Linked DNA regions of Homo sapiens: region 2 is linked to region 1. A link means that fine-mapping ties the variant in region 1 to the expression of a gene that starts in the linked region. Tissue or cell type: whole blood. Region 1 holds a variant in brackets; the other region holds the start of a gene. All regions are shown on one strand. Distances are between the middles of the regions.

Region 1 (2,688 bases):
TGCCAATGCCTACACAAGCTGAAGATACAAATATATTTCAATTATATTTGTGGTTATAAAGTGGCATCATTTGTCTGGGGTAATACCCCAGGTTCCTTGCCTCATGCCAAGGAAATCAAGGACACGGACATGCAAGGAGTGAGTTTAAGAGGGAAATTTTAATAAACAAGAGAGAAAAGCCCCCTCATGCAGAAGCAGAGGGTTCTGAACAGATCTCTTCATTCATGGCAAGATGCATTTGGTTTTATAGATGTGCTTGAGGAGGTGGTGTCTGATTTACATAGGGCACAGAGGATTTGTTGGACCAGGTGTGCCAATTACATAGTGTGTGAAGAAGCTTGCCATAGCACCCTAATCTTTTAATATGCAGATGAATTCTCTACCTGGTGGGTGCCATGTTACCTATTCTCTGACTTCACACATGTTGACAAAGAAAGAGGAAGATCATATCTTTCTTCATCTTCTATCTGCATCCTCCTCTTCTGTGAATAAATTTAAAAAGAGATGCCAAGAAGACACATCTGTTTCCTATTCACACATCACTTCAACTCACTATCAGTCAATGTAAGTAGAGCTGATTGATTATAGCAATTTCCTGGCAGGACACTTCTCAGCAATAAATAACACACTGAAAGAAAAGTATAGGCTGGGTGCAGTGGCTCATGCCTGTAATCCCAGCACTTTGGGAGGCCAAGGTGGGCGGATCATGAGGTCAGGAATTCAAGACCAGCCTGGCCAACATAGTGAAACCTCATCTCTACTGAAAATACAAAAAAAAAAAAATCAGTTGGGTATGGTGGCAAGCACCTGTAGTCCCAGCTACTTGGGAGGCTGAGGCAGGAGAATTGCTTGAACCCAGGAGGTGGAGGTTGCAGGGAGCCGAGATCGTGCCACTGCACTCCAGCCTTGGCAACACAGTGAGGTTCTGTCTCAAAGAAAAGTAAAGTATAGATTTTTCGTAAAAAGCTAATGTATTTTTAGCGAAGTAAGCATATGCATCAATAACAAAATGCTTCCTGCCAGGCACGGTGGCTCCTGCCTGTAATCCCAGCACTTTGGGAGGCCAAGACAGATGGATCACCTGAGGTCAGGAGTTCGAGACCAGCCTGGCCAACATGGTGAAACCTCGTCTCTACTAAAAATACAAAAATTAGCTGGGTGTGGTGGCACCACCTGTAGTCCCAGCTAGTCGGGAGGCTGAGGCAGGAGAATGGCTGCAACCCAGTAGGCAGAGGCTGCAGTGAACCGAAATTGCACCACTGCACTCCAGCCTGGGCAACACAACGAGACTTTGTCTCAGAAATAAATAAATAAA[TAAAA/A]ATAAAATGCTTGTGGTAAAATATAGATTCATTTTGTTGATTTCTATTGAGCTCAGGTAATATTTGACCAAAAGCTAGCAAATATACCACAGAAAAAGGAATATTTTAAATAAGAATATGGTGAATGAAGTTATCCTATCAATAGAAGTAAAAATATTGGCCAGGCGCGGTGGCTCACACCTGTAATCCCAGCACTTTGGGAAGCCGAGGCGTGTGGATCATGAGGTCAGAAGTTCTAAGACCAGCTTGGCCAACATGGTGAAACCCTGTCTCTACTAAAAACTACAAAAATTTACTGGGCACAGTGGCAGGCATCTGTCATCCCAGCTACTCAGGAGTCTGAGTCAGGAGAATCACTTGAACCCGCGTGGCTGAGGTTGCAGTGAGATATTGTGCCACTGCACTCCAGCCTGGGTGACAGAGTGAGACTCAGTCTCAAAAAAAAAAAAAAAGAAGTAACAATATTATAACCTCATACTAATAGTCTCATCTATAGTTATACAACATCAAATGCTTCTTTTTATTAAAAAGTATATTTCATATGATTATTCAATGTATATCACCCCCCTTCATTATTTCAATGCCTTCTCCACTTTATATCCCTGCAAAACAGGCCAGCTGTTTCTAGGAAAGCACATGGTGCTATTGCTATTTTAATGATGATATTGGAGAGCACTTGTTTGGGTGGTAATTCCATGGCAAACACTGCTATTTGGCCCAAAGTACTGGTTTTCTATTCTTCTCTAAATTTATGGATAAAATAAAATTCTTAGCTAAGAAGACTTTATCTTATTCAAGTACGTATTATGGAATTTTGTTGACACTTAAGTGTTTCTGACTTACCTGGAATATTGAAATTTCCCATGAATTCAAATTGAACACTGTAAAGAAACAATCCTTTACTAAAAGCGTTTTTGAGGCAGAGTAAGATTCATAAAATTTCTTTATAATATGGAAACAATTGTGTTAATGACGTTCCTAGTAATCCCTCTGAACATAGCATTCTCAATTCTCAGTATTCACCCTGAATCACTCAGGGAAAATTGGTATCTCTGCGAGCAGGCAGAAGAAGGTGCTGAGTAGAGGTGCATCACATTGCACATAAATGCTGTCCACATGCACCTATTAGAGTCTTAATTTAATGGACTGTTATTTGCATGGCTAGATACTTACTAAATCTAGTCATATTATTTTTGGCAGCTAACGGTATCTGTTACCCATTAATTTTTTTTTTTTTTGAGACAGAGTCTTGCTCTGTCACCCAGGCTGGGGTGCAATGGCATAATCTTGGTTCACTGCAACCTCTGCCTCCCAGTTTCAAGCCATTCTCCTGCCTTAGCCTCTCAGGTAGCTGGGACTACAGGCATGC
Region 2 (2,688 bases), 250 kb before region 1:
CCCAACTGGCTGAAAACATAGCCAGCAGCCTGCACGTTGCTTCATGTTATGTCTGTGGGGGAATGAACATGGGAGACCAATGGCCATGGGAAGCAAGGGAACTAATGCCCCAAGATAATTTCACACTAACCGCCTCTTCCCTCGAACCTGCACCATCAAGTCAGAGCATCTGGTTCTTAAAAACCTCCATTATTGGAAAATTCTGTATTGCTCGCTGGGGAAAGGCCTTTACAGACCCAGTAGGAGAGTTAACTTGCCTAGGACAACAATATTACAACGAGACACTAGGAAAGACTTTATGGAGGGGCAAAAGCAATAATTCTGAATCACCACACCCAAGCCCATTCTCTCGTTTCCCATCTTTAAACCATTCTTGGTACCAACTTGAAGCTCCAAATACCTGGCAGGCACCCTCTGGCCTCTACTGGATCTGTGGGCCACAAGCATATCGACAACTGCCAGCTAAATGGTCAGGGGCCTGTGTACTGGGGACAATTAGGCCGTCCTTCTTCCTAATGCCCCTAAAACAGGGAGAAGCCTTAGGATACCCCATCTATGATGAAACTAAAAGGAAAAGCAAAAGAGGCATAACTATAGGAGATTGGAAGGACAATGAATGGCCTCCTGAAAGAATAATTCAATATTATGGCCCAGCCACCTGGGCAGAAGATGGAATGTGGGGATACCGCACCCCAGTTTACATGCTTAACCGCATTATAAGATTGCAGGCAGTACTAGAAATCATTACCAATGAAACTGCAGGGGCCTTGAATCTGCTTGCCCAGCAAGCCACAAAAATGAGAAATGTCATTTATCAAAATAGACTGGCCTTAGACTACCTCCTAGCCCAGGAAGAGGGAGTATGCGGAAAGTTCAACCTTACTAACTGCTGCCTGGAACTTGATGACGAAGGAAAGGTCATCAAAGAAATAACTGCTAAAATCCAAAAGTTAGCTCACATCCCAGTTCAGACTTGGAAAGGATAGTCTCCAGATTCCCTTTTCAGAGGTTGGTTCTCATCCCTTGGAGGATTTAAAACCTTAGTACAAATAGTCCTAGCCATATTGGGAGTTTGCCTTATACTCCCTTGTCTCTTACCCCTCATTGTCAAAAATATCCAAACAGCCATAGAGGCTCTTGTGGACAGACGGACTACCACACGACTAATGGCCCTAACTAAGTATTAACCCCTGCCAAGAAAAGAGCTACTTCCTCTTGAAGTAAATGAAGATAGTGATGCTTTCTCTTAAACTTTACTTATAAAAAGCATCAAAGGGGGGAATGAAGCAGGAAATATAAAAGGAAAAACAAGTAAAGGGAAAACAAGTCCTTTCCTGACCAGTCTGACTCACTCCAAAGTCCTGCTGGAGCTATGATAATTATCTGCAAGGCCAGGCAGGGGCTCCGAAGGAGTGGGCTCCAGGAGCAGGGATGAGAAAAACAAGTTCTCCTTATCAGTTTCCCTGTTTGAAATTCTCTCCCCATAACATTATTCTTTGTTCTGCTCTCACAACTATTTTTGTAACTATTTCTGCAAGTCTGTAAAGATTTTGTAAGTTCTTGTTTTTCTTTCTGTAGCATGGCAAGGTCACAAGACATGTTTAAGTAAGGTAGGCTCATGTTGCAAATCCTGTTGTAAAACCTGTCACGGTATGATTAACTGCCTTTGTTCTGCTTCTGTAAGACTGCTTTCTCACCTCGCAGGTTTTGCGCCAAAAACCCGACTTGCCCCTGCCTGATGCATGTATAAAAGTCAAGCCCTGTCTTTGTTCAGGGCTCAGCCTTTGGATGTTAATCCGCTGGGCCAGTGGCCACCTAAATAAAACCTTCCTGTTGCACCCAGTGATCTCTCCGGCCTCCTGATTCCCACAACATATAAGCATTCCTTTTTCTCTGCAACCTAGCCCGCATCTGTCATTGACTTTTTAACAATAGGCATTCTGACTGGATGAGATGGTATCTCACTGTGGTTTTTCTCTGCATTTTTCTAATAATTAACAACGTGAATTTTGTTTTCATATGCTTGTCAGCCACATGTATGTCTTCTTTTGAAAAGTATCTGTTCATGTTTTTGCTTACTTTTTAATTAGGTTTTTGGTTTTCTTTTTGTTGTTGTTGTTGTTTTCTGAGATGGAGTCTTGCTGTGTCACCAGGATGGAGTGCAGTGGCATGATCTCGACTCACTGCAACCTCCACCTCCCAGGTTCAGATGATTCTTCTGCTTCAGTCTCCTGAGTAGCTGGGATCACAGGTGCGTGACACAAAACCCAGCTAATTTTTGTATTTTTATTAGAGATGGGGTTTCACCATGTTGGCCAGGATGGTCTGGATCTCTTGACCTCATGATCCATCTGCCTCAGCTTCCCAAAGTGCTGGGATTACAAGCATGAGCCACAGATCCTGGCTTATTCTTCTTCTTCTTTTTTTTTAAAATAAATTTGTTTAAGTTTCTTATGGATGCTAGATTTTAGACCTTTGTCAGAAGCATAGTTTGCAAATATTTTCTTCTAGTCTGTAGGTTGTCTGTTTATTCAGTTGATTGTTTCCATTGCTGCAAAATAGCTCTTTAGTTTAATTAGGTCCCATTTGTCAATTTTTGCTTCTGTTGCAATTGCTTTTGGTATCTTCATCATAAAATCTTTGCCAGTTTTTATGTCTTAGAATTTTCTAGGTTATTTTCTAGATTAT

Evidence for each region. PIP is the estimated chance that this variant, and not a neighbour inherited with it, causes the effect.
Region 2: it holds the start of ZNF117, and the variant in region 1 is fine-mapped to the expression of ZNF117 in whole blood (INTERVAL, PIP 0.91).

The regions. Positions count from the first base shown.
Region 1 is chr7:64,739,975-64,742,662 of GRCh38, reverse strand. No RefSeq gene overlaps it. Among named protein-coding and RNA genes, the nearest start is that of ZNF138, 53 kb to the left of the region's middle. The variant TAAAA/A (reference allele first, on the strand shown) is at 1,316.
Region 2 is chr7:64,989,510-64,992,197 of GRCh38, reverse strand. ZNF117 (zinc finger protein 117) reads left to right here and starts at 1,162. Exons shown (of 4, transcript NM_015852.5): 1 at 1,162-2,251. All of the region lies in intron 1 of ERV3-1-ZNF117 (ERV3-1-ZNF117 readthrough), which reads left to right. ERV3-1 (endogenous retrovirus group 3 member 1, envelope) reads left to right here. Exons shown (of 2, transcript NM_001007253.4): 2 at 1-1,842. The coding sequence ends at 986.